Linked DNA regions of Homo sapiens: regions 1, 3, 4, 5, 6 and 7 are each reported to be linked to region 2. The links are microRNA targets in miRTarBase. Many come from high-throughput screens and were not tested one by one. Region 2 holds a microRNA gene; each other region holds the end of a gene's coding sequence.
Evidence for each region. Region 2 holds the annotated microRNA hsa-miR-890 (UACUUGGAAAGGCAUCAGUUG, at 2,911-2,931, opposite strand). A microRNA usually pairs through its seed, bases 2 to 8, with sites in the 3' UTR of a target mRNA and lowers its output. Matches are read on the target gene's strand: a 7mer-m8 pairs with bases 2 to 8, a 7mer-A1 pairs with bases 2 to 7 and ends in A, and an 8mer does both.

Region 1: miRTarBase lists B3GALNT1 as a target of hsa-miR-890. Seed matches in the 3' UTR shown: 7mer-m8 at 2,763-2,769.
Region 3: the mRNA of RAB36 is a reported target of hsa-miR-890. Seed matches in the 3' UTR shown: 7mer-A1 at 1,873-1,879 and 7mer-m8 at 218-224.
Region 4: miRTarBase lists WDR12 as a target of hsa-miR-890. Seed matches in the 3' UTR shown: 7mer-A1 at 897-903, 7mer-A1 at 1,784-1,790 and 8mer at 3,780-3,787.
Region 5: the mRNA of LIF is a reported target of hsa-miR-890. Seed matches in the 3' UTR shown: 7mer-m8 at 2,543-2,549.
Region 6: miRTarBase lists SMAD9 as a target of hsa-miR-890. Seed matches in the 3' UTR shown: 7mer-A1 at 1,215-1,221.
Region 7: the mRNA of ANKRD40 is a reported target of hsa-miR-890. Seed matches in the 3' UTR shown: 7mer-A1 at 2,463-2,469.

What each region holds. Positions count from the first base shown.
Region 1 is chr3:161,081,990-161,086,043 of GRCh38, forward strand. B3GALNT1 (beta-1,3-N-acetylgalactosaminyltransferase 1 (Globoside blood group)) reads right to left here. Exons shown (of 5, transcript NM_003781.4): 5 at 1,894-4,054. The coding sequence ends at 3,770. Among named protein-coding and RNA genes, the nearest start is that of B3GALNT1, 21 kb to the right of the region's middle.
Region 2 is chrX:145,991,411-145,995,477 of GRCh38, forward strand. It overlaps MIR890 (microRNA 890), which reads right to left and starts at 2,941; the gene lies at 2,865-2,941. It overlaps MIR892C (microRNA 892c), which reads right to left and starts at 1,416; the gene lies at 1,340-1,416. MIR888 (microRNA 888) reads right to left here and starts at 3,450; the gene lies at 3,374-3,450.
Region 3 is chr22:23,160,856-23,164,913 of GRCh38, reverse strand. RAB36 (RAB36, member RAS oncogene family) reads right to left here. Exons shown (of 11, transcript NM_004914.5): 10 at 3,916-4,035; 11 at 1-3,414. The coding sequence ends at 3,350. It also overlaps a transcript of RSPH14 not described here. Among named protein-coding and RNA genes, the nearest start is that of RAB36, 17 kb to the right of the region's middle.
Region 4 is chr2:202,877,272-202,881,338 of GRCh38, reverse strand. WDR12 (WD repeat domain 12) reads left to right here. Exons shown (of 13, transcript NM_018256.4): 13 at 402-4,067. The coding sequence ends at 479. Among named protein-coding and RNA genes, the nearest start is that of ICA1L, 7.5 kb to the right of the region's middle.
Region 5 is chr22:30,240,137-30,244,203 of GRCh38, reverse strand. LIF (LIF interleukin 6 family cytokine) reads left to right here. Exons shown (of 3, transcript NM_002309.5): 3 at 143-3,751. The coding sequence ends at 553. LIF-AS1 (LIF antisense RNA 1) reads right to left here. Exons shown (of 3, transcript NR_149070.1): 3 at 3,666-4,067. Among named protein-coding and RNA genes, the nearest start is that of LIF-AS1, 3.0 kb to the right of the region's middle. RefSeq lists an enhancer at 1,900-2,568.
Region 6 is chr13:36,845,149-36,849,215 of GRCh38, forward strand. It overlaps SMAD9 (SMAD family member 9), which reads right to left. Exons shown (of 7, transcript NM_001127217.3): 7 at 1-3,671. The coding sequence ends at 3,528. Among named protein-coding and RNA genes, the nearest start is that of RFXAP, 28 kb to the left of the region's middle.
Region 7 is chr17:50,692,430-50,696,486 of GRCh38, reverse strand. It overlaps ANKRD40 (ankyrin repeat domain 40), which reads left to right. Exons shown (of 5, transcript NM_052855.4): 5 at 344-3,289. The coding sequence ends at 490. Among named protein-coding and RNA genes, the nearest start is that of ANKRD40, 13 kb to the left of the region's middle.

The DNA.
Region 1 (4,054 bases), not on the chromosome of region 2:
TTTAATTATCGTAAGAAAGCATCCCCAAAGTTGGCAGCATTAGGCAAAAATTATTTCTTACATTTCTGGTTTACAGGGCCTAAATTGGGGTCTGTTGCAGAGTTGTCTGGCATTGTCTGAAGGCTCCCTCTCCCTTTCAGACACTGAGTGTGGCAGCTTACAGTACGACTGCACTCAGTTTTTCATTCCCCATTCTGTGGAACAATACATTCCTGCATGCTGCAACATCACTTGCAGTTACTTCCTGCAAGAGAAATATACTTCCCCACCTCAGTGACACTGGGCTTGGCAAGGGATTCATCTCAGCCAGTGGATGTATTAATATATGCCACTGTGCTTCCACCAGCTTTTTAATTTCCTTCTATAAGAACAGCATGTTCCAAACGGGCTGCCCATCAGCCTGGATCCTGGAATGAAAAAGACATAGAGCAGGGTTGCAGCCAACCACTGCCATGCAACTGAGTGAAAACATTGGTTGTCATCAAGTCTGAGATTTGGGCGTTACTGTAGCATTTGTGACCCTTAGCAAAGCTAACTAATGTGCTAAAAGTCACAAACTCAACACCTGCAGACAAGGAAAGCAAGTGAGGCAGAGGGTGTGTGAAACTATGGGGATGGCAGGGCTAAGGCAGATGGGACCAAATCAGCCCAAGGATAAGCTCCAGTATTAAACGTTGTTATATGAGTTAAAATTTTTAAAGCTGCTGATTTGGTTAAACACCAGGTCATGATTTTAATAACACAGCTAATATTTACTTCCTGAAAGCTTAATATAGTTGAAAACAAAAAATATAATGACCCAATCTCTTAATGTTTTCCTAATCATTTAACTTTGTAGGTTCTTTTAGGCACCAATCTTCAGTTCAAAAGAAACAATCTTCTGAAACTTGTTTGTTTTTTTTTTGTTTTTTGGTCTTTTCTAAAAGTGAAAGGGAATTATTTTTTATGTTAAAAGTTCTCTCTAGAAATGTTTTGAGTTAGCTTCCCAAACATCGATATACAGAAATGTGGCACTTAGCAATGGAGATACATTCTGAGAAATAGGTGATTTTGTCGTTGTGCAAACATTAGAGTGTACTTACACAAACGTAGATGGCATAGCCTACTATACACCTAGGCTACATGGTAGAGCCTATCGCTTCTAGGCTATAAACCTGTACAGAATGTTACTGTACTGAATACTTACTGTTGGAAACTGTCACACAATGGTACTGGTGTATCTAAAATAGAAAAAGCACAGTAAAAAAAACCAAACAGTATAAAAGATAAAAAATAGTACACCTGTATAGGGAGGGCACTTACCATTAATAGAGCTTGCAGGGGTGGAAGTTGCTCTGTGTGAGTCACTAAGTGAGTGGTGGGTGAATGTGAAGGCCTCAAACATTACTGTGCACTACTGTAGACTTTACAAACATGGCACATTTAAAGTAGGCCACACTAAATTCATTTAACAATTTTCTTTCTTCAGTAATTAACCTTAACTCACCGTAACTTAACTTTACAAACTTTCAAACTTTGACTCTTTTGTCAAAGTTTTTTGACACTTAGCTTAAATTTAAAACACAAACATCTTGTAAAACTGCACAAAAATATCTTTATATCCTTATTCTGTAAGTTTTTTCCTATTTTAAACTTTATTTTTCTACTTTTTAAACTTTGTTAAAAACTTAAGACACAAACACACACATTAGCCTAGGCCCACAGGGTCAGGATCATCAGTATCACTGTCTTCTATCACCACATCTTGTCTCACTGGAAGGTCTTCAGGAGAAATAGCATGAATGGAGCTGTCATCTCCTATGATAACAATGCTTTCTTCTGGAATACCTCCTGAAGGACCTGCCCAAGGCTCTATTAAACATTTTTTTAATAAGTAGGAATAGAACACTCTAATTATAAAAAGTAAATACACAAACCGGTGTCATTTATTGTCATTATCAGTATTACATACTGTACATAACTGAATGTGCTGTACTTTTATACAACTGGCAGTGTAGTAGGTTTGTTTACACCAGCATCTCCACAGACACGTGAGTAATGCACTAGGCTATGACATTAAAACGGCTAAAACATCATGAGGCAATAGATTTTCTGCTCCATTATAATTTTATGGGACCACTATTGTATATGTCATTATGCAGTACATAACTGTAATCTTCTGCAAAACCAGTCAAATCTAACCATGCCACAAAAATAACTACCACCATCTGTCTTAAAGAACGTGACTCCTATATGGATGGAGATTAACAAGGGCATAGATCGATTCTATAGAATATTTCATTTAATTGATTTTATTATAACTGGATTAGGTCTGAGCCCTGGGAAACAGACATCACCTTGTTATACAGAATCACACATTATAGTTTTAACTGAAGTTGTTTTTCATATAGGACAATCATAAATATGAGTATTACAAGAGCTGACTACATACTTTCAAGTTTATATTTCCTGACAAAGGATATGACCTTTTTCCATCCTGTAATTCAGAGAAAAAGAACCACTTGCCCTATATAAACTCTAAAAAGAAAACTGCATAAACCCAGGAACAGGGGGCAAGGAGTGCTCCCCTTTGACCTACTATTAGCAGGTCCAACAAATGATATATCACCACGTCTATGAAGAAATTTCTTTCTATAAAAGCACAAAATTTAAATCGGATTTGACTTTACATATTAGGGCTTTCATCTTGATGAGAAACTCATAACAGCAGCAGCTCAAACTGATTGTTAAAAGGAAAAAACACAGGGCAGATTAATAATGCAACTTGGATCTTCACTCTTCTCTTTCCAATTCAAATGCTGGAATATGACACTCTTTTTATAATATTCTGCCCATGAGGTTCTCTCCCTTCTTTTCTGCCTTCAGAGTCCTTTCCAAAAGGAAATTACTGCCTTGCATTCTACATTATTCCTAATTTCCAGGTGGAAAAATGAGACAAATTAAGTGACTTCTAAAAACACTAGGAACTGTATTTTTTAAAAACAAGACAATACTTCAGATTTTCTTGCTTTAATTCTTCTCTATATTACCACAGTAAAATATTTAACAAAGTCCAAGAGATTACTGATATGCAATAATGACCTATGACTTTACATTAATGGAGTGATGTATCAATAATAAACTGATCAGTTAAGTAACTGGAAAATGTTTGCATGTAAAGAATGATTCACTATCCTTTTTATCTTGTATTGAAATCGTCAAAACATTTAAAAACACAAAGTTGAAGTAATTTTAAATAATAATAACTGTGAAATACTGCAACATCTTGAAGTACTTTATAAATGACCAAAAACAGGTAAAATTTTGTTCAGTATAACTTCAGTGAAGAAGTTTTTTGACACAGAACTACATATATTTTTAAATTGGTAATCCACATAAGATATACACAAAACCTTCAAGTGACTACATTGTTCAATAAATAAAACTCTACATTGTTTTGTTTTTACAGCCTAGTGAGCTTATAACTCAGTAACACCCTTTTAAGAAATTCTAGTCTACAGAATGACATGTCCAAATTGTTTGGTCCTATTAATTTCTTTAGCAAAAACCTCCAATTCCTTTATATTTAATTCCTCCACATATCATCTTTGAAGGGCCTGACTAATAAATCACAAGTGTAACCCTCCAGTCTCCAGTCTGGGTTTTTCATGAGTTTCAGTTCAGTGTAAGCCAGCACACTGACCTCCCCATGAATTTTCCACAGTACCTACTTTATTTAACACTTTCCACAAAGTATCCTGTCCTTCTAGGCTTTTTGTAGAATGTGAAGTTAATAATGGCATGTGGTGTTCCTTAGCATGACCTGCCAAAAAGTGATGATCTCCTTGGAAGAAAAGCCATGGGCTGCAATCACACGTCTCAGTTGACAGACATCCAAATGGATTCTATATAGAAAGAAAAGATTTGTGTCTTCTGGAATATGAATGTTCACTTTTAATAAATTCAAACAGATCCCGACATAAACATCTTCAAACTTGATGGGTTTTACGTGACCCATCATTTCATAGATCCTTGGCACCAAATCTCTGGACATTATATAACCCAACCCACTGCA
Region 2 (4,067 bases):
AATTACATGTAATCTAAGTTACTGGCACTCTATTAGTCAATTGTCATGCTGCTAATAAAGACATACCAAAGACTGGGTAATTTCTATTGAAAAAAGAGGTTTAATTGACTCACAGTTCAGCATGGCTGGGGAAACCTCAGGAAACTTGCAATTACGGTAGAAGGGGAAGCAAACACGTCCTTCTTTACATGGCGGCAGGAATGAGAAGTGTTGAGCAAAGCGGGTGAAAGCCCCTTATAAAACCATCAGATCTTGTGAGAACTCACTATCATGAGATCAGCAGCATGGGAGTAACCGCCCCCATGATTCAATTACCTCCCACTGGGTCCCTCCCATGACACATGGGGATTATGGGAACTATGATTCAAGGTGAGATTTGGGTGGGGACACAGCCAAACCATATCAGACACCTTTCTGGGAATAGCCCTGAACACAGCATGGTCGAAAGGGGAAGTGCTGCCCCATCTTGCATTTTCATACCCTGCAGCTTTCATCACTCCTCTGAGCACGGTATGATGCCTGAATCCTGAACTTATTTATTCATCAGTTCAAAATAATGCCCAGCCCACAAGCCCCCAACTTGCATGTCTCCCTCAGTGCCCTCTCACCTGCTCTATGTTTACCTGGATGATTGCCCAGACCAGGAGAAAACAAGCTTGTTCCCGTTTTCTATTCTTCAACTAGGAAGTATCTTCATCTCTTCTATCACTTTCTTCTTTAACATGATGGAGTCTACATCATTAGGAATGCACCAGTAGAATTATCTTGAGGATGCCTGAGGTCCATGTGGCCAAATAGGATCTCCTGGCATCAGGGAAGGCAGCTCAAGGCCCTTGGAACTCCACATCAGGGGTCTACAGGCAACTATATGCTTGTACTTGGTAAGCCTTAGTCCACTCAGAGAGGAACTAGTTACATATAATCTAAGTGACTGGCACCTTTCTGGAACATATTATGGACGAATGGGGAGGGGCTACTCCATCGTGCAATGTGAATCCCCATCCTAGAGAATGTCCAGCCCACTGCCCTCCATCATGTATGTTTCCCTCAGCAAGAGCACTCTCACTTGGCTTCATGTTTACCCAGATGGTTGCCAGGACCACGAGAGAACAAGCTTGTTTTTCTGTTCTTCTATTAGGAAGTATCTTCACGTCTTCTATCCTTCTCTTCTCTATCATATAGGTATTCTCATTATTAGGAATGAACCACTGAAATCATCTAGAGGATGTCTGAGGTTCAGGTGGCCAGCTAGGATCTCCTGGCATCATTGAAGACAACTTAGGGCTCCAGCAACTCCAACTCATCGCCTGTCTGAAGACCACCACACACTTGTACTTGGTAAGCCCTACTCCACTCAGAAAGGAAACAGTGACATGTAATCTAAGTGACTGGCACCTTTCTGAATAGGGCACTGCCCACAGCACGACTGATAGTGGAGGTGCTGCCCCATCACCCACCATCACGCACTGCAGGTTTCATCACTCCCCTCAACACAGCAGGCTGCCTGAGCCCTGAACACATTTATTAAGTCCTAGAGAAGTTCCAGCCCACTGCCCTCCAACTTGGCATGCCTGCCTCAATGAAGACCTTCTCACTTGATTTATGTTTCCCTGGATGATGGCCAAGACGAGAAGAAAAAAAATCTTGTTCCCGTTCTCTCTTCTTCTTTTAGGAAGTATCTTTATCTCTTCTATTATTACCTTATCTAACCTGTAGGTGCTCACATTGTTAGAAATGGATCATTAAAATCATCTTGAGGATCCCTGAGTTCCAGGTGGCTTCCAAATCTCTCCTGGGATCAATGAAGGCAGTTGAAGGTGCTTGCAGGTCTGTCTCCTCACCAATCTGAACGCCATCACAAAATTGTACCTGGAGAATCTTGCTCTACCCAGAAAGGAGCTGGAAACATCTAATCTAAGTGACTGACCCCTTTTGGAGTAGGGCACTGCCCACAACATGGCTAATTGTGGGGGTGCTGTCCCATCTTGCATGTTCTCCCCCTGTAGCTTCCATCACTCCTGAGCACAGCATGATGCCTGAACCCTGAATTTATTTATTCAACAGTCCTGGATCATGTCTAACCCACTGCCCTCCAATGTACATGCCTCCCTAAATGAGGAACCCCTCACCTGCTCTATGTTTACCTGGGTGATCGCCAAGACCAGGAGAAAGCAAGATTGTTCTCATTCTATTTTTCTAGTAGGAATTATCTTCATCTTGTCTTTCTCATCTATAACCTGCATGTGTTCATGTTGTTAGGGACAGACGATTTAGAATATCTCGACGATGCCTGAGGTCCACATGGCCAACTAAGGTCTCCTGGTATCAGGAAAGGTACCTCAAGGCTCTTGAAACTCCACCCTATCATGGGTCCAAAGGCCACTACAAACTTATACTTGTTGAGCCTTACACTACCAAGGAAGAAACCAGTGATGTATAATCTAGGAAACTGGCACATTTCTAAGTAGGACACTGCACACAGCATGTCTGATAGCGGAGGTGCTGGCCCATCTTGCAAGGTCAACCCCCGTCCAGGAGAATGTCCAGTCTGCTGCCCTCCATGACGCATGTCTCACTCAATGAGACATGCTCACTGCTCCATATTTGCCCAGATGGTTGCCAGGACCATGAGAGAACAAGCTCGTTTTCTGTTCTTCTATTAGGAAGTATCTTCATTTCTTCTATCTTTCTATTCTCTGAAAAATAGGTATTTCCATTGTTAGAAATGCATCATTGAAATCACCTTGAGAACACCTAAGGTTCAGGTGGCCAGCTAGGATCTCCCGGCCTTACTGAAGACAACTAAAGCCTCCAGCAACTCCACTGCATCACCTGTCCGAAGGTCACCATGAACTTGTACTTGGTAAGACTTACTCTACTCAGAAAGGGAATAGTTACATGTAATCTAAGCAACTGATGCCTTTCCAAGTAGGGCACTTCCCACAGCATGTCTGATTGTAGAGGTGCTGCCCCATCATCCACCATCGTGCACTGCAGCTTTCATCACCCCACTCAACACAGCAGGATGCCTGAACCCTGAACTTAATCTTAATTCCTAGAGAATTTCCAGCCCACTGCCCTCCAACTTGGCATGCCTGCCTCAGTGACGACCTTCTTATCTGATTTATGTTCACCTGGATGATGGCCAAGACAAGAAAAGATTGTTCCTGTTTTCTCCTTTTAGGAAGTAACTATCTTTTCTGTCATTGCCTTCTCTAATTTGTAGGTGCTCACGTTGTTAGAAATGATCATCTTGACGATGCCTGAATTCCAGGTGGTTTCCAAGGTTCTCCTGGGATCAATGAAGGCAGCTCAAGTTGCTTGCAGGTCTACCCCCTCACCAGTCTGAGGACCACCACAAAAGTGTACTTGGTGAGCCTTCCTTCACCCAAAGAGGTGTCAGTCACATGTAATCTAAGTGACTGACAGCTTTTTGAGTAGAGCACTGCCCACAACATGGCTAATTGTGGAGGTGCTGTCGCATCTTGCGTGTTCTCCACCTGTAGCTTCCATCACTCCTCTGAGCACAGCATGATGTCTGAACCCTGAACTTATTTATTCATCAGTCCTGGATCATGTCTAGCCCACTGCCCTCCAAGGTATATGCCTCCCTAAGTGAGGAATCTCTCACCTACTCTATGTTTATCTGGATGATTGCCAGGACCAGAAGAGAGCAAGATTGTTCCCATTTTCTATTTTTCTAGTAGGAATTATCTTCATCTTGCCTTTCTGATCTATAACCTGTAGGTGCTCATGTTGTTAGGGACAAGCCACTTAACTTATCTTGAGGATGCCTGAGGTCCACATGGCCAACTAAGATCTGCTGGTCTCAGGGAAGGTACCTGAAGGCTCTTGCAACTCTACACTATCATGGGTCCAAAGGCCACTACAAACTTATACTTGGTGTGCCTTACTCTACCTGGAAAGGAACTAGTGACATATAATCTGGGCGACTGACACATTTCTGGGCAGGGCACTGCACACAGCATGGCTGATTGTGGAGGTACTGCCCTATCTTGCACAGTTATACCCTACAGCTTTCACCACTCCCCTCAACACAGCATGGC
Region 3 (4,058 bases), not on the chromosome of region 2:
TGTGGGGGTGGGGTGGGCTGGGTGGTGAGGAGCCTCGAAAGCCAGAGCGAGAGCACCCTGGGACCTAGCCCTGGGGAGCCAGGAAGTGACAGGAGAGGACCTGCTTCAGGTACGTGTCTCCAGCAGAAGAGACAGGTGAACGGAAGGACACACAGATGGACAGAGAGCAGGAAAGGGTCCAGGGAAACAGGGAAGAGGAAAAAGGCGTTTCGGCAGCACTTGGACGCGGTCACTGTGGTCATTGCCGCACCTTGGCTGCAGGGGGCTGCTTGCCTGGGCCCACAAGACCAGACCAACAGAAAGTGCCTCTGCCCAGGAAACTTACTGCCCGATGCTGGGAAAGAAGGAAATGTCTTCATTAAATCATCAAAGTGAGGGTGCGCAAACCACCCTGAAGCAATTCTGACCGAGAAGATGCTGCATCAACTTGGGGTGGGGGGACAACTGAGCCCCTTGCGTTTCCGTGGCGACCTTACTCTTCTGTCCTCCCAGGCCAAATATCAAAGTTCGAGAGGCCACAACTATGTCAGTCAGGGTGTGTGGGAATCAGCTGGCACATTGCAGGAGGTAATATGAGGACGATTTAATCAAGGACCATTTACAGAGGTGGGGGTGTACGTGAGGCAGTACAGCTCTAGCTCAGAAGCTGGTAACAGCTGGACACCACACCCACCCCCGCAAACATATCCTGGAGGCCCGAAGGGGCAAGGGAAGGGAGCTGTGGAGAACGACAGTCCACCATGGGCAGGTTCTCCCGTCCTGTGAAGCTTATGCCCAGCAAACCTGGTCTTCCTAATGGACCCCAATGCTGTCTGCCCGACCACAGGCTGCATTTAGTGGACCAGGCTGGGGGCCGCAGTCGGGAGAAGGGCCTTCCTGAGTACGCAAAGCTATAACTACAAGAATGGCCACTGCAGCACCATTGGCAAGAGCTAAAAGCTGGACACAAGCCGGATGGCCCGCGGATGGGGAGGGTCAAATGAACTACAATCCATCCACATGAAAACTGGGCGCTGCTACAGGAAGGAGGCTCCTTGTGTGCCATCAGGGAGAGGCCTTGGCGCCAGCTCCCTAGGAAGGCAGGCTGCCAGGCAGTATGTCCAGAAGGAGCTCACTCTGGTGAAAACAACAAACAAGCCATCAACACTAGCTGTGCAGGCAAAGGCACAGAGTCCAGAAGGAATAGTCCTGACTGTTAGCAGAGCTAACAGTCTTTCCTGCTCTCTGTCCATCTGTGTGTCCTTCCATTCATCCATCTCTTCTGCTGGAGACACTTCAGGGGCGCAGCTAATGTGGCGGGGGGGGGGCTTTCACCTTGTATTTTATATGCTTTGTACTGTCTTTGTTCACACTAAACATACAACCCCTTTAAAAGTCATTTATGGAGGCCGGACGCGGTGGCTCAGGCCTGTAATCCCAGCACTTTGGGAGGCCGAGGCGGGCAGATCACGAGGTCAGATCATCGAGACCATCCTGGCTAACACGGTGAAACCTCTCTCTACTAAAAATATAAAAAATTAGCCCGGCATGGTCACACGTGCCTGTAGTCCCAGCTACTCGGGAGGCTGAGGCAGGAGAATGGCATGAACCCGGAAGGGGAAGCTTGCAGTGAGCCAAGATCGTGCCATTGCACGCCAGCCTGGGTGACAGAGACTCCATCCCGCCGCCCAAAAGAAAACATAAAAATGAATAAAATCATTTATGGCCGGGCATGGTGGCTCACCCTTGTAATCCCAGCACTTCGGGAGGCCGAGGTGGGCAGGTCACCTGAGATCAGGAGTCCGAGAGCAGCCTGACCAACATGGAGAAACCCCATCTCTACTAAAAATACAAAATTAGCCAGGCATGGTGGTGCATGCCTGTAATCCCAGCTACTTGGGAGGCTGAGGCAGGAGAATCGCTTCAACCTGGGAGGCAGAGGTTGCACTGAGCCGAGATTACGCCATTGCACTCCAGCCTGGGCAACAAGGGTGAAACTCCATCTCAAAAAAAAAAAAAAGTCATTTATATAAAAAACTACAAAAAATATGTTGAAGGGGGAATGAATAGAAAAAGATGCCAGTGTTCTTCCCTAACTGGTATTTGGCAATCGCTGAGCTGAACATTTACAGGGCAGCTGCAGTGTGCCAGGCCCTAGGAGAGCAGTACTGATCAGAAGGCTGCCTGCAAGGTGCTCGCCATCTACGGGAAGCAACAGCACGAGACGGGTGGGATGAGTGGGCATAGCCAGGTGACAGGGGCCTGGGGCTGTGGGGCTGGTTCATAGCAGTGAGAAAACCCTGTGGATGAGCATACTGGGCAGAGAGGCTGGGGAATGTGTGGGGTATTTCTGTCTGCTCTGCATGTGCAGGAGGCGGTGTTGGAGACAGGAACATGCTAGACTTGGCAGGGCCTCTGAAGTCCTCTAAAGGTGCATGGACACCATTACAAAGGTCCTAAGAGATGTATAGGCCAATGAGAGAGGGATGGAGAGGCAGCAGTGGGCACAGGCCCAGCATGAGTGCCAGAGGAGGGCAGTGCCATGTTCAAGGGCTGCAGAGTGAGTTACCCTAGGACAGCTGTGCAGTCTGCCTCCCGCAGCACACAGGTAAATGCACTGTCCAGGTGGGCCAGAAAGGCCTGAGTGGTTGTTCTGCACATCCTGGCCCACGGACCAGGAGGGCAGGACCTAGGGATCTCAGAGGTGCCAGAGATAGCCCTTCAGCCAGAACAGGTCTAAGAGACATTTTGTCCATTGTCCTCCAGAGGTGCTGGTCTGCCCAGGAACCTTGAGCATCCGTGGCAGAAGGACAGTGAGGCCTGAAGCTCTGAGACCCAGAACCATAAGTCCTGCTGACAACAGAAAACTCCCAGGGGGAATGGCAGGTGGCCTCTCCTTCAGGTGCTGACTTTGACAAGTCCAGGTTGCCTGGAACACTGTGACGGATCCTGGGGACACATCCAAGATCGCTGGGAAAGAGTGCAGGGTTGACTGCTGATGTGGGCCATGGCCGAGTAGTATAGACCGACGCAGGAGTTTGCAGTTCTGAGGCCTCTTGAGGCCAAAGGTGACTGTCTGATGACCCTGCAAATGGACTGGCCTTTTATGGGATCACCACAGTGCCTGCACTGGCCCGGTGGTGTGGGGCTCCCAGGCAGCCAGTGGGGGCCTTTTCTAGTGCCCAACCTGCAACGGACAAGTGACTGTGCCCTGGAGCTGAGCCCGGTGGGTGGGTGGAGGGACTGGAACATGGGCCTACAGCTTGAGGGCGACACGCTGCAGAGCTTGGGCTCCAGTCTCCACACCACAGTCACGGAAATTCCTGTCCGTGTGTGTGCAGGGAGCGGAGGCCTTCCACGCAGGCCCCAGTTAGCAGCAGCCCAGGCTGGAGGGCCTCTTGCTCTCCTGGGTCTCGGGCGGACTCCCTTCCATTTCTGTAAGGAGGGGAGAAGTAATTTAGCATCAACCAGGAATCCTGTAGCTGACACTGGGCAGGGGATGCCGGCCCTGACAGTCAGAGCTGTGAGCTGAAGCTTCTGGGCCTGCTGTTCAAGGCCTGAATGGCCTGACACAAGCCAAGAGAGGGCCTTCCAGGCACTGGAACAGAGAGGGCAAAGGTGCAGACTGGGAGAGCCGGGGCCAGGACACATCTGCAGAGCCTGGGACGCCCAGCCTGGGCTATGAGGACCTCATGGATGCCCATGAGGTCCATGTGTCAGGAGAACAGGGAGGGCTAGGGAGGGTGTCTGACCTGGCAGGTGGAATCAGAGGGGCTACAGGCCTGAGGCTGCAGTGACACCCTGAGAGGAGGGTCAAAGGACAGGAGAGGGCCACAAGTTCAGGAAATGGCAAGGCCTCAGGTGACGAGGATGGCGCATGTGGATTTTAGGCCTCCAGCCTACTCCCCAGCCCAACCCAGTCACACCTATACTCACGGATTAGGTCTCCATTGCCGACCTGGAGCCGGGCACTGCTCTGCCTCTCCAGGTCCTGCAGCACCGACTGCTCGAATGCCAGGGCGGCTACGCGGCTGAAGAATGCCTTCACGTTCTCGCCTGTGGGCCCACAAGACAGCCGG
Region 4 (4,067 bases), not on the chromosome of region 2:
CTTACTGCCTAAGAATTCTTTCCAAATATAAGGCCTAGGGCTACTTGAATAATTTGTAATATACAATTAATGTGTTGTCCTTTAAAAATTTTTAATTTTCTTTAATAGGTAAAACTGTATCCCTTTCAAACTTATGTATCTTGGCAGATGCTTTATAGAAAGTGCAACAGCATATTATGTCTCAACCAAATTTAAATGATAGCTTTTAATGTTTTAATAAACTGTATCATAGTATAGTAGTGAAACAACGTTGGTCCCTTTACTCACTCTCAATGCAAGTTAACTGCTCACCCATAATTCCTTTTGTAATGAAAATCATTAGTATTTAATTAGGTTTAGCTATGATGTGAAATAATTATATTTATTTATGTTTTCTTGTCTTTTTCTCTCCTTTTACACAGCTACTTCTGAGTGGAGGAGCAGACAATAAATTGTATTCCTACAGATATTCACCTACCACTTCCCATGTTGGGGCATGAAAGTGAACAATAATTTGACTATAGAGATTATTTCTGTAAATGAAATTGGTAGAGAACCATGAAATTACATAGATGCAGATGCAGAAAGCAGCCTTTTGAAGTTTATATAATGTTTTCACCCTTCATAACAGCTAACGTATCACTTTTTCTTATTTTGTATTTATAATAAGATAGGTTGTGTTTATAAAATACAAACTGTGGCATACATTCTCTATACAAACTTGAAATTAAACTGAGTTTTACATTTCTCTTTAAAGGTATTGGTTTGAATTCAGATTTGCTTTTTTATTTTTATTTGTTTTTTTTTTTTTTGAGATGGAGTCTTGCTCTGTTGCCTAGGCTGGAGTGCAGTGGCGCAATCTCAACTCACTGCAACCTCCGCTTCCTAGGTTCAATCGATTCTCCTGTCTCAACCTCCCAAGTAGCTGGGATTACAGGCACACATCACGATGTCCTGCTAATTTTTGTATTTTTAGTAGAGACGGGGTTTTGCCATGTTGGCCAGGCTGGTCTTGAACTCCTGACCTCAGGTGATCTGCCCACCTCAGCCTCCCAAAGTGAGCCACTGTGCCTGGCCGAATTAAGATTTGTTTTTGAAATGCTGTAAAAGGTTATATTGGAAATCCAGTAATTGATTGTTGAGATTTTTATTTCTGTTAGAGACTTAGATTTTTTTAAGTTAGCTATTTTAAAAAAGCATTCAAAAAGATTAATGAAAATTGTAATAGAGAAAAAGTTAGAAATTCAGTTCCTTTTGGCAGAATAAATGTTCAAGAAAATTAGGCTGTGAGGGTACTCAGAACATTAAAAAAAATGTAGGCTGGGCATGGTGGCTCACACCTGTAATCCCAGCACATTGGGAGGCCGAGGCAGGTGGATCACCTGAGGTCAGGAGTTTGAGACCACCCTGGCCAACATGTCAAAACCCTGTCTCTGCTAAAACTACAAAAATTAGCTGGGCATGGTGGCGACCGCCTGTAATCCCAACTACTTGGGAGGCTAAGGCAGGAGAATTGCTTGAACCCGGGAGGCAGGGGTTGTAGTGAGCTGAGATTGTGCCACTGCACTCCAGCCTGGGTGACAGTGCAAGACTCTGTCTCAACAACAACGATAACAAAATATTGATTCGGCAGGGCACGGTGGCTCATGCTTGTAATCCCAGCATTTTGGGTGGCCAAGGCAGGCGGCTCACCTGAGGTCAGGGGTTCGAGACCAGCCTGACCAACATGGTGAAACTTTGTCTCTACTAAAAAAAAAAAAATCCAAAACAAATTAGCCGGGTGTGGTGGCACACTCCTGTGGTCCCAAGTACTTGGGAGGCTGAGGCAGGAGAATTGGTTGAACCCAGGAGGTGGAGGTTGCAGTGAGCTGAGATCATACCACTGTGCTCCAGCCTGGGCAGCAGAGCCAGACTCTATCTCAAAATAAAGACAAGTAGATTGCCAATTTTTGAAGAATTCATCAAGATATTTTAAGGAAGGCACTTTATATTAAATATATGTCAGATCCTTTAGAAATTGCATACAGTTGGTTGGGCACGGTGGCTCACGCCTGTAATCCCAGCACTTTGGGAGGCTGAGGCGGGCGGATTGCCTGAGCTCAGGAGTTCGAAACCAGCCTGGGCAACACAGTGAAACCTCGTCTCTAATAAAATACAAAAAATTAGCTGGGCGTGGCAGCATGTGCCTGTAGTCCCAGCTACTCCGGAGGCTGAGGCAGGCAAATTGCTTGAACCCGAGAGGCAGAGGTTGCAGTGAGCTGAGATTGTGCCACTGCATTTCAGCCTGGGCAACAGAGCAAGACTCTGTCTCAAAAAAAAATAAAAAATTGCATTGCATACAGTTTTCACTGTAACCCTAATCTTTCCTCATGTGTAGATTAGAATAAATTTTTTAGACAAAACCTTTCATCAGTATTAAACATTCTACAGATTTTATGATATCATTAGCATTTATCTTTATGCATGTGTTATATAAAAATATTTAAAGTAAATGTATTTTTTAAATGTTATTTCCATTATTAATGGATTGATACTCCTTAAGTAGAGCATTCACAACCTTTTAGTAATATTTGGGAAATATGTTTGGTCTCATTATTAGATGGTATTACATCTCAAATGATGTTCCTGTTGCAGAAGTCTGCGAAACAATATCTAAACTTGGCTGCAGTTGAGAGCTAAACAGTGTATTGAACCAGTTAGGAGTTTAGTTCTCTGTAGAAAACCAGAGGCAGTCCAGGGCTGATGTAGGTTTTGTTCCACATTCTTTAGGATCCTAGGCTCCCTCCATCCCTGGTATGTGGTCCTCATTTTCATATAGACCAAGAGCTAGAGCTCCAGTTACCATTTCTTAAAGTATATTTTAATGCCAAATAGTGAATAAAGGTGGCCAGAAAATTCATGCACAGAATCCTTCTTTTTCTCATTTTGTGCTGATTGGTATAAATTTTATTGTATTTGTAGTCTCTGGAAATCTTCTAACTTTGAGAGGACAAAGATGAATTCCTAGTCCTGTTTTGGATGGTCTTCAAATGATCCTTAAGGGCAGTTATTTAAAATGTCTTTCTTAACTCACCCAACCTAGGCTGACCGAATGTAGTCTGTATAAACTAGATGGTTAAAGATAAAGAAGCCTATATATCAGATGCATAGACAAAGAATAAAATGGCATCCAGAACTGGTCCCCACCTATTCCCAATCCTGGTTCCACAGCAGAATACATTCATAGTTCAGGCATTCTTCCTTGAGATAGATATAATGTAAGTGACCAAGTCTCTTGGACAAGTATTGTCTCTGATCAATCCCTGCCAAACTCCTTTCCTTGGTTAACTCAAGTGGTTAGATCTTACTCCCTGAACAGAAGGAATATGAGAGGTCAATACATGCCTAGACTATTCAGTCCTCTGATATTGCTCCACACCCTTTCCCTCAAAAGCCATGAGACCTTTCAATGGTCCCAGTTCCTCTACCAGAACACCAGAGATGCCTGCTTTACATGGACTTATATATTCCCAAGAATCACTTGGATAAATGAGTGGTGCTGCTTTCCCGTGGTTGGGGAAAAGCTAGGAACCTGACAATGCAGTGCTCAGAACCTGCTGACCGGTACTAGTTATGCTGTCTTGCCATAGTAGTGCAGTTCTTTAAAATGTTGATACTTGCTCTCTTATCAAAGGTTGGTTTTTTTGTTTTTTTGTCAAGACAGGGTCTCACTATGTCACCCATACTGGAGTACAATGGTGTAATCTTGGCTTACTGCAACCTCCACCTTCTGGGCTCAAGCTGGCCTCTCACCTCAGCCTTCCAAGTAGCTGGGACCACACCCAGTCAATTTTTTATTTTTTATTTTTTAATTTATTTTTATTATTACTTTTTTTGTAGAGAGAGGGTTTCGCCATGTAGCCCATGCTGGTCTTGAACTCCTGGGCTCAAGCTGTCTGCCCACCTGGACCTCCCAAAGTGCTGAGATTACAGGCATGAGCCACCGCACCCAGCCCAAATAAAGTTTTAAGAAATTACTTGGCCAGGCATAGTGGGGCCTTTGTAGAAAAACATAGCTTTTCTATGAGAAGATGATCAATATTTTCTTT
Region 5 (4,067 bases), not on the chromosome of region 2:
CAATTCCAGATGCTTACAGGGCAAGGAGTTGGGTCCTCATGCGCTAGATGGGGAAACAGACGCAAGAGCTTGCCCAAAGGGTTGGCGGCAGGGCTGGGACACTGACCCCTGACTCCCACGTCACCTCCCTTCTGCCCCTCAGTACACAGCCCAGGGGGAGCCGTTCCCCAACAACCTGGACAAGCTATGTGGCCCCAACGTGACGGACTTCCCGCCCTTCCACGCCAACGGCACGGAGAAGGCCAAGCTGGTGGAGCTGTACCGCATAGTCGTGTACCTTGGCACCTCCCTGGGCAACATCACCCGGGACCAGAAGATCCTCAACCCCAGTGCCCTCAGCCTCCACAGCAAGCTCAACGCCACCGCCGACATCCTGCGAGGCCTCCTTAGCAACGTGCTGTGCCGCCTGTGCAGCAAGTACCACGTGGGCCATGTGGACGTGACCTACGGCCCTGACACCTCGGGTAAGGATGTCTTCCAGAAGAAGAAGCTGGGCTGTCAACTCCTGGGGAAGTATAAGCAGATCATCGCCGTGTTGGCCCAGGCCTTCTAGCAGGAGGTCTTGAAGTGTGCTGTGAACCGAGGGATCTCAGGAGTTGGGTCCAGATGTGGGGGCCTGTCCAAGGGTGGCTGGGGCCCAGGGCATCGCTAAACCCAAATGGGGGCTGCTGGCAGACCCCGAGGGTGCCTGGCCAGTCCACTCCACTCTGGGCTGGGCTGTGATGAAGCTGAGCAGAGTGGAAACTTCCATAGGGAGGGAGCTAGAAGAAGGTGCCCCTTCCTCTGGGAGATTGTGGACTGGGGAGCGTGGGCTGGACTTCTGCCTCTACTTGTCCCTTTGGCCCCTTGCTCACTTTGTGCAGTGAACAAACTACACAAGTCATCTACAAGAGCCCTGACCACAGGGTGAGACAGCAGGGCCCAGGGGAGTGGACCAGCCCCCAGCAAATTATCACCATCTGTGCCTTTGCTGCCCCTTAGGTTGGGACTTAGGTGGGCCAGAGGGGCTAGGATCCCAAAGGACTCCTTGTCCCCTAGAAGTTTGATGAGTGGAAGATAGAGAGGGGCCTCTGGGATGGAAGGCTGTCTTCTTTTGAGGATGATCAGAGAACTTGGGCATAGGAACAATCTGGCAGAAGTTTCCAGAAGGAGGTCACTTGGCATTCAGGCTCTTGGGGAGGCAGAGAAGCCACCTTCAGGCCTGGGAAGGAAGACACTGGGAGGAGGAGAGGCCTGGAAAGCTTTGGTAGGTTCTTCGTTCTCTTCCCCGTGATCTTCCCTGCAGCCTGGGATGGCCAGGGTCTGATGGCTGGACCTGCAGCAGGGGTTTGTGGAGGTGGGTAGGGCAGGGGCAGGTTGCTAAGTCAGGTGCAGAGGTTCTGAGGGACCCAGGCTCTTCCTCTGGGTAAAGGTCTGTAAGAAGGGGCTGGGGTAGCTCAGAGTAGCAGCTCACATCTGAGGCCCTGGGAGGCCTTGTGAGGTCACACAGAGGTACTTGAGGGGGACTGGAGGCCGTCTCTGGTCCCCAGGGCAAGGGAACAGCAGAACTTAGGGTCAGGGTCTCAGGGAACCCTGAGCTCCAAGCGTGCTGTGCGTCTGACCTGGCATGATTTCTATTTATTATGATATCCTATTTATATTAACTTATTGGTGCTTTCAGTGGCCAAGTTAATTCCCCTTTCCCTGGTCCCTACTCAACAAAATATGATGATGGCTCCCGACACAAGCGCCAGGGCCAGGGCTTAGCAGGGCCTGGTCTGGAAGTCGACAATGTTACAAGTGGAATAAGCCTTACGGGTGAAGCTCAGAGAAGGGTCGGATCTGAGAGAATGGGGAGGCCTGAGTGGGAGTGGGGGGCCTTGCTCCACCCCCCCCCATCCCCTACTGTGACTTGCTTTAGGGTGTCAGGGTCCAGGCTGCAGGGGCTGGGCCAATTTGTGGAGAGGCCGGGTGCCTTTCTGTCTTGATTCCAGGGGGCTGGTTCACACTGTTCTTGGGCGCCCCAGCATTGTGTTGTGAGGCGCACTGTTCCTGGCAGATATTGTGCCCCCTGGAGCAGTGGGCAAGACAGTCCTTGTGGCCCACCCTGTCCTTGTTTCTGTGTCCCCATGCTGCCTCTGAAATAGCGCCCTGGAACAACCCTGCCCCTGCACCCAGCATGCTCCGACACAGCAGGGAAGCTCCTCCTGTGGCCCGGACACCCATAGACGGTGCGGGGGGCCTGGCTGGGCCAGACCCCAGGAAGGTGGGGTAGACTGGGGGGATCAGCTGCCCATTGCTCCCAAGAGGAGGAGAGGGAGGCTGCAGATGCCTGGGACTCAGACCAGGAAGCTGTGGGCCCTCCTGCTCCACCCCCATCCCACTCCCACCCATGTCTGGGCTCCCAGGCAGGGAACCCGATCTCTTCCTTTGTGCTGGGGCCAGGCGAGTGGAGAAACGCCCTCCAGTCTGAGAGCAGGGGAGGGAAGGAGGCAGCAGAGTTGGGGCAGCTGCTCAGAGCAGTGTTCTGGCTTCTTCTCAAACCCTGAGCGGGCTGCCGGCCTCCAAGTTCCTCCGACAAGATGATGGTACTAATTATGGTACTTTTCACTCACTTTGCACCTTTCCCTGTCGCTCTCTAAGCACTTTACCTGGATGGCGCGTGGGCAGTGTGCAGGCAGGTCCTGAGGCCTGGGGTTGGGGTGGAGGGTGCGGCCCGGAGTTGTCCATCTGTCCATCCCAACAGCAAGACGAGGATGTGGCTGTTGAGATGTGGGCCACACTCACCCTTGTCCAGGATGCAGGGACTGCCTTCTCCTTCCTGCTTCATCCGGCTTAGCTTGGGGCTGGCTGCATTCCCCCAGGATGGGCTTCGAGAAAGACAAACTTGTCTGGAAACCAGAGTTGCTGATTCCACCCGGGGGGCCCGGCTGACTCGCCCATCACCTCATCTCCCTGTGGACTTGGGAGCTCTGTGCCAGGCCCACCTTGCGGCCCTGGCTCTGAGTCGCTCTCCCACCCAGCCTGGACTTGGCCCCATGGGACCCATCCTCAGTGCTCCCTCCAGATCCCGTCCGGCAGCTTGGCGTCCACCCTGCACAGCATCACTGAATCACAGAGCCTTTGCGTGAAACAGCTCTGCCAGGCCGGGAGCTGGGTTTCTCTTCCCTTTTTATCTGCTGGTGTGGACCACACCTGGGCCTGGCCGGAGGAAGAGAGAGTTTACCAAGAGAGATGTCTCCGGGCCCTTATTTATTATTTAAACATTTTTTTAAAAAGCACTGCTAGTTTACTTGTCTCTCCTCCCCATCGTCCCCATCGTCCTCCTTGTCCCTGACTTGGGGCACTTCCACCCTGACCCAGCCAGTCCAGCTCTGCCTTGCCGGCTCTCCAGAGTAGACATAGTGTGTGGGGTTGGAGCTCTGGCACCCGGGGAGGTAGCATTTCCCTGCAGATGGTACAGATGTTCCTGCCTTAGAGTCATCTCTAGTTCCCCACCTCAATCCCGGCATCCAGCCTTCAGTCCCGCCCACGTGCTAGCTCCGTGGGCCCACCGTGCGGCCTTAGAGGTTTCCCTCCTTCCTTTCCACTGAAAAGCACATGGCCTTGGGTGACAAATTCCTCTTTGATGAATGTACCCTGTGGGGATGTTTCATACTGACAGATTATTTTTATTTATTCAATGTCATATTTAAAATATTTATTTTTTATACCAAATGAATACTTTTTTTTTTAAGAAAAAAAAGAGAAATGAATAAAGAATCTACTCTTGGCTGGCTCTCCGGAGTGTACTGATGTGGGGAGATGGGCTGGAAGGGCTGGGACTGTCCCTGTCCTGGGCACCAGCCAAGTGGGACTCAGCGAAGGGTGGAGGAGGGTGGGTGAGGGGCACCTGGCATAGGTGGGGGCAGTTAGGTGGTATTTTGGCCAAGGCAGAACAAGGTGGGTGGTGTCTAGATCATGGGGTGCCCCCAAGGAGAGAGATGGATTGCTCAGAGGTAAAGGGGGTGCTGGGCACGGTGGGTCACTCCTGTAATCCTAGCACTTTGGGAGGCTGAGGCAGGTGGATCATTTGAGCCCAGGAATTC
Region 6 (4,067 bases), not on the chromosome of region 2:
GGGACACAAAGTTAAGCAGGTGCTTACAGTCTATCAAGTGATATTTATGAAATGTTTTTGTTGCTGTTTTGTTGCTGTTATGGGAACATCCATATCCTTAGAAGACAATAAAAAAGAGGATTCTAAATGCTAGATGGTTGGCTAACTTCTCCTGATTTATACTGAGTGTAAAACAAAACAAAACAAAACATAAGGTATATGTGTTAAGTAGTGACATCTTTATAGTTCCAAAGCACTCGCAGCTATTAAAATATCATCTAGCTAAAACAAACTTTTCACAATTTTTTAACAGAAAAATAATAAACCAACAACAAAAACTGATCAATGTTCTGGGTCTTGTGAGCAGACCGAAATGTTACTACAGTGTTCTCTATTGTGTGATCCTTGTCCGTGGCAACCTTAAACGTGTGCTGCAGTGCTGATGTATTTATAGGCTTAGCATGTCTGCTTTATTAGTTATCCTGGAAAGAATGCTATTCAGTTTTTTTTTTAATGTCTACATCAAGGAATGAATGCTAAATGAGCCCATTTAGCAGCCTGAAATCAAATACTGCATTTATTTTTTGAAACTCTTGGTAGCAAAAGAAAAAGCTGATTAAAATATGATTGTGTTACAATGACTAAAGGGTTAACTTCTCATTAATTCTAAATTCTTCAAAATGTACAAGCATCATAATAAAGGCTTTTGATGAGACATGACTGGTGATGATCATATGTGCCAATTTAATAATTTATTTGTCACAGAAAATTCAGATTCACTGCAATATTGTGTTCTGGCTTCCCAAAGCTGCAGGGAAATACAAGTTTTTTGTTTCTTGATTTTTGTTTAGAGACAGGGTGTCACTTTGTCACCCAGGCTAGAATGAAGTTGTATGATCATAGTTCACTACAGCCCCAAACTCCTGGGCTCAGATGATCCTCCCGCCTTGGCCTCCCAAAGTGCTGGGACTATAGGAATGAGCCACTGCATCCAGATTTTTTTTTTGTTTTTAATGTCATTTATGAGCCACCAGTTTAGATTAATTCTGTAAAGGTGTAAGATTACCAGAGGAAGCCGGGCGCAGTGGCTCACGCCTGTAATCCCAGCACTTTGGGAGGCTGAGGCGGGCGGATCACAAGGTCAAGAGATAGAGACCATTCTGGCTACCATGGTGAAACCCCGTCTCTACTAAAAATATAAAAATTAGCTGGGCGTGGTAGCCTGTAGTCCCAACTACTTGGGAGGCTGAGGCAGGAGAATCACTCGAACCCGGGAGGCAGAGGTTGCAGTGAGCCAAGATCACGCCACTGCACTCTGGCCTGGTGACACAGCGAGACTCCATCTCAAAAAAAAAAAAAAAAAAAAAAAGATTACCAGAGGATAAGTTAGATAGCTGGTAGAGAGATCACGAAAGCTATGTTTGATCTCTGGAGCAAAAACTGTGTTGAAGTTCTCCCATGGAATGGTTCCCATACAAGATTCACCATATTAATGCCTTTTCTAAGAAAAGGGGACATGGAGAATTATTGGAAAACAGGGAAGAAAGGGGAGGAAAAAAAACAACTTTGAGACATGGAAGAAAAGTAGCATTTATACAAGGAATCCATTACCTGACTTTGCAGAAGAGTAAGGAAATAATTTCAAAACAGAGATAAGAAATCAATCACATTCTTTCAAGCAAAAGATGATAGATTACATTATTTTGTTTTGTTTTAAAAGTTCTGAAACATGAAGATGTCTGTACAAACAGATTCACTATTAGGTTCTCGGCTCCCTGAGGGCTGGGACTGTCTCTTATTTACATTTGATTCTACAGTACCTAACATTGTACCTGACACCCATAGGTAGGTGCACAATACATAGTTGATGAACCAATAAACTACAGATTTTTCTATACACTACATGGGCCATATATTACATTTTTCAATGTAAAATGTAATAATTCTTTTCTATGTGTATATATGAAAGTTTCTATTAGCTAACACTAGTAACTGTAAGAGGTGACAGTAGTAGCTCAATCATATATCTTTCTCACATGATCATTTCTACCTTGAATACAATTTAATTAGAAAAACTACCATGTGCACTAATGCTAGAAAGAGTTGAGATAAAATGTATAAATGAAGAAACTTCTTGGATTACTGAAGTGCTGTCTGTTACAAGCATAACTGCCATCTTAAATTGTACATTTTTAAAGAGGGTGTGAAATATTTTTCCAAGCAATGCAGTGTTTAGTGCATGGCAAGTATATATATGAAAGTACCTAGAAATTTGGGGGATTTTCCTCCCTCATCTAAAGTAAAATAAGAACAGGTTTTTAATATTGTGTATATTTTTAAAAGATGTCTTATTATTCAGTACCACTGTTCCCCAGAAATTGCAGATGATTATGAAATTATTATCACTTTCCTTGGGAATTTATTTCCAGGTTAGATAATCACTAGACACTAGGTTAAATAACTCATTGATCCAATAATGTGTCTAGATTTTCTCAAAGTCTTTACTGTTGCTTTAGTGATCTGCAAAGAGTTAATATTTGCCAAGAGGCAGGAAAACGTGGCGAAAGAGTGCCCTTCCCAGGAGACTGGAACGTGGGAAATGAGAAAGTGTAAGTCGACGTGTGATGCTTTTCTCCAACCTTTGGTTTCACCTGCTTCTTGACACAGGACTGAAACACAAGCTATTCTGGCACGCTGCGCAGACTCAAAGTTTGCAGGACTGCCTGACACGAACAACCAGCACGACAGGAACCTGGTCTCCTCTGTGGAAAGCAGGAGTCTCCCTGGGTGGCTGGCTCTTGGACCAAGTTCTGGTCTTATCTTGCAATCTGGGAAACAGCATTTCATGCTATTTTCATATTTATTTTCCCATATTAGACTCTGTTTTTACAGTGGTAGACTGAGGGAACATGACTTTTGGCTTCACAGTTTTTTTTCTTTTCCGATCACAGTTTGTTTAAAATGTACCACTGAATATGAGCACAGGAGCCCAGCTATAGGTATGTCAACCTTAGAAATAAAGTTTCTATGGCCTATCTCATTAATTCATTGTACAAGTTTGTTGTTTTTTTTTTCTTGCCAACAGCACTAAAAGTGACATCATTTAAACTGTAGGGGTTTCACTGCTTTGTTTCATCTGAGTGATATTTGCTTTAGTGCTGCTAATACCTGACTTTTGCTGTATAAACAGTTTCAATGTTTCTGTGAGGCCACACAACATGCTTTATAATGACACGGCTGACTAAAGCTGTCTTTTATTCTGCTAACACCCTTCAAATACTGTTGACAATATCGCCTCTCAAGTGTTTCCTCCCACAAAATCTGCTGCTTATAGCACAGGCACCAAAGTCCTGCTTTTCCAATTGCACTGTACTGGCATCAGGTTAACTAGAAAGCACAAAACAAACGGTGATTAAAAAAAATAAGAACAGTATACATTCTATGTATTTACACATGTTTTTAGAAACTTCAGTTGCAAATCTGAAATGATACAAGCCACTCCCTGCAATAGCCTCTATCCTATGGAAATGCAGCTTAAGACATGACTGTTAAGACACTGAAGAAATGGGGTTATGTGGAGAGCCCATCTGAGTCAGAACTTTGTCCAGCCACTGCAGTGGCCCATGAAGATGAATCTCAATCCAGCAGGGGGTGCTGGTGACATCCTGGCGATGATACTCAGCACCCCAACCCTGAAAAACAAGAAAGGAGCTGAGTGATGGTGCCACACTTACACTCAGCCTCCAGAGCCCCAGGCAGAGCTCAGCGGGGCACAGAGCCCACACCCCAGCGTAGCTCCTGAGACCTGAGAGGGAGAGAACATGGCCTCTACCTTCCTGTAAACACAGGTCAACTCTCACACCAACCAGATGCCTTCAGATGAATCCAAATCAGTGCATTCCCTCAGGGTTCACAACTGAATACTCGGATCTAGAGAGGTTCTGGCACTCCAGTCACACGGGAAGCACTGAAAAATCATTTTCCCTTCCACAAAGGAAGAAACTTGACCTTTTGTTCACCCCTTCATGCCCAGGACAGTGTCTTGCACAAAATGGTTACTGCAGACCAGTGACTGGACCTGAAAGTGG
Region 7 (4,057 bases), not on the chromosome of region 2:
AGCAAATCACATAGATGCATGTGTGGTCCTTCATACATCTCTGGGTTTTTGACATCAGGCTTCTGGCTTCTCAGGGCACCTGGGAAACTGATCTGTGCATTGCCTCTCCCTTCGCAGTGTGTGCTCATGCTGTCGCAGCTGCTGAGCTGTTTTTAAGGACTTCCACTTTGCAACCCAATCATCCTGGGGCCTTAGTTGCACTATCACTGACTTAGCCTGCCACAGGGATTTTTTTTTTTCTTCTAGGTTTTGAAATAAGACAAGATACTGGTATCAATAGAGTGCACCAAACATATGGAGACAAGTGGCTCCTGTTAATCTGTTTAACATATTTTTGTTTTAGGACAAGGATGTTGCTCGACTCCAAGATTTCCAGGAGCTGGAACTGGTTCTGATGATAAGTGAAAATAATTTTCTGTTCAGAAATGCTGCATCCACACTGACTGAAAGGCCTTGCTATAACAGGAGAGCTTCAAAACTGACTTACTAATGCAGCAGGGACTTTTATCACTGAGTATTATGACAGTGTGCATCACCTCTGGGCCAAGGACAAGCCATTGATCTAAATGCCTCAGATGCCCGGGAGGGCCTCTGGTGCCACTGCATAGTATATACTAACATCATTCTGCCAAGGTAGGAAGCCCCTGACCCCCAAGCAGTGGTGCCACTCTTCCAAGCCTCTTGGTGCACAGTAAACCTATTGCTTGAAGCTTTGAACAGCTGAGAAGTGGTCTGGAGAGGCAGAAGCTGAAGGTTCTATATCCAGTGTGTTTTATGTCCAGAATGTAAGAGAGTTGTCTAAGCAGCAGCTGAGAGAGAGCGGAGCCTATTTCTAGCCACTCCTGTTGACAGTGCACCTGAAGGGCTGGGATGCGTTTTTCTTGGTGTTGCATGCTCACAACTCTGCTGACATTGGGAACTTATGAGAGAGGAAGACTCGGGAAAGCACAGATACTGGACAGATGGATTCTGGTGTGGGGAAAGCACAGATACTGGACAGATGGATTCTAGTGTGACTTGTGACTGTGAGGTTTCCTATAACATATTTATAAATGTTACTCAGGTTAAAAGTATTTAAGAATACAGTTAACTAATTGTAAATATGCTGTTAACCAAAAGAGCTTTCCCTCCCTCACTTTTTCCTTTGTAAACACTCATGACTGCTTCTCTGTCTCGAGTCATCTCTGCATTAACTCCCCTTCGTGGTCACTAGAGGGCTCTCTGATGCCTTCTAAAAGAACAACTGCTTTTTTACAATGCCCCCCACCCCCACCCCGCCCATAGAGACAGGGTCTCACTATGTGGCCCAGGCTGGTCTCAAACTTCTGGCCTTAAGTGATGCTCCTGTCCTTGGCCTCCCAAAGTGCTGGGATTACAGGTGTGAGCCACTGCACCCAGCCCACTTTTTTTTTACTCTGAAGTGATTCCAGTCATATGTGTGTGTAACTGCATCCTATGAGAAGAGCACAAATATTGCTGTTCCATGTTCTCCACTTTCATTTTCCACTACAAATGAAAAGCAATTTTTGAGACTGAATCTGTTGCTATTTTAAAGGTTATTGTGGGAAACTGAGCTAAAGGAGTTAGCATCTTTATTTTTGTATCAAAAATAAAGGTTATTTTGAAATTATTAGGATTTTTACACAATTCTGAAATCTGTTGCTTTTGTAAACAAATTGTTTGATCTTAGTGATCCCCCTACTACTACCACCAATTCACTTCACAAAGTCAGTTATGAGTCTACCAGACTTTGTTCTGAAAAATAGAAACAAAACACCTGATTAAGCTCTTGAGTATGGCATAGGAATTTTTTAGAAGAATGCATTCAAGGATTCTTTTCCTTTCCTTCAGTGTCATTAATGTTAAAAGAGCAGCCACTGTTTTGTTGAAACAAACAGCTTAACTTCAGAAATAAGAACTAGCACACTTAGACAAACAGGAGAGCAGGGGTTTGAAGCCAGCTGTCGAAGAGCATCCCTGCTGTCTTAAGAAGCTTTTTCCCCATAGTGCCTATAGTTTCCAAAGAAACTCAACTTCCTAACTGTGTTAACTTAATTTTATTAGAACACTACAGTTGAGTGAGAACGTGCAGAAGATGTCAACAGAAGAGAATGTTGTGCTAAGATAATGGCCTCCTGCTGCTGCCTAAATGCTGAAATGAGGTTGAGATGTTTTTCAAGGCTAACTTCATGGACTCACTCTGTTTAGTGACTTAATTGTATCCCACCAATTACTGCTGGTGACTTACTCACCCTTGTACAGTGTTTGCATAGCAGAGTGAAGGTTACTTATTACCCTCTTTCTCTCAAGTGCTTTAAAGAAGAAACCTCCCTGGTGTTTCTTTTCTTTTTTTTTTTGAGACGGAGTCTTGCTTTGTTGCCCAGGCTGAAGTGCAGTGGCATAATCTCAGCTCACTGAAACCTCTGCCTCCCGGGTTCAAACGATTCTCCTGCCTCAGCCTCCCAAGTAGCTGGGATTACAAGCATGTGCCACCATGCCCAGCTAATTTCTGTATTTTAGTAGAGACAAGGTTTCACCATGTTGGCCAGGCTGGTCTCGAACTCCTGGCCTCAAGTGATCCACCTGCCTTGGCCTCCCAAAGTGCTCCGATTACAGGTGTGAGCCACCCGGCCCAGCCCCTCCCTTGTGTTTCAACCAATCGGAAGTGAATTTAACTAGATGTAGTAACCTTTTTTTTCTTTACTTCTAAAACAGTTACAGTTTACTAATAAAGTTAAGTCTGGTTCTGTCCTAGAGGAAATAAATTCACTATTAATTCATGTCTTAAGTTACTTGGGTTAAAACACTTTCAGCCACCCAGATTAATTAAAGTGGAGCAGTGGAGCCCCTGGCTGGGAGATGGCCTCCAGAGGAGCAGCTGCAGGGCATGTTCTGGGCTTAGCGACAGAGGCAAGCAAGGGACTGGTGTCTCTGGTGAGAGGTGGGTTTGATGTATCTCTGTCCTATGCTGGTCTCTCTTCTCCTTTATAAAATCCTCTGTGGTCAACTGACTACTGCGTATCGCAGTGGAATAAGACTGCACAGTTGCTGGTAGGTGAGTTTAAAGTCTTAATCTATGCATTCAGAGAAATATTTTTATATGCTTTGTGTAATTTATAACAAGGATTTTTTTTTTAGCTTTGTTAACTGTGAATTCACCCCTCCTCCTCCACTGCATATTTAAAGCATGTGTTCACACTGTGTGTAAACATTCACTGAAGATTTTTTCTTTGTGCATTGCTGACTGTTCAAACATAACAAGTATTATTAAAATTAAATATTAACTGACCGATCCTATATGCCTTCATTTTGGCTTCCTAAACAGCACTACAGTTCTAATCATAGGGGGTTCAAATTGTTGGACAGTCCCAGAGACCAGAAGCTCTGCAGGAAAATTAGAAGGGCCCTCTCTCCACCTGAGCCTCCTCCACATCCCGTTCATACCCTGTCAGTAGCACCTGGGGACGGATATTTTGTGCGGCGTCTTTCCTTCCAGTTCACGCAGTCGGCTTCATTTCCCTGGAGTAGCTGAGCCAGTTAGATGGAGGTCATCCCCTATTAACCACATTTTTTGATTATCCTATTTACTTTACCCAACTGAGCCTCTCCTTTGAGTTGTCAGCACCTGTCAGGGCCTCAATGAGCTCAGAAGCAAAGTCCCAAGACAGGAGAGGAAACACAGCCTTACACTTCCAGATCTTTAGCTGATACTGATGCTGAATGAGTCTGCTTTTCTGTTGGTTCAGGCCAGCTAGCACCTCACAAAGCAGACGTCAAGCCAAATTGGCCTAATAAATCAGAGAGCATAGCAGAGACCTTTTCTTAGCACCAAGGAGAGGCAGGATAATTTGGGCATTTGTGCTTTCATACTTGCTTTATCACAAGGATGGAAGTCATCTTCCATATACTCATAAACATCCTGGGCAGAAACAGCCTGCCAAAAAAATGTGATTAACCTTTAACAAATGGTCCTGCAGCACAGGCTGACCCAGAGCATATAGAAAAAACCAGTCAAAGGATCCACCTCCATCCATATCTACTGCAAGCCATTTAGGGT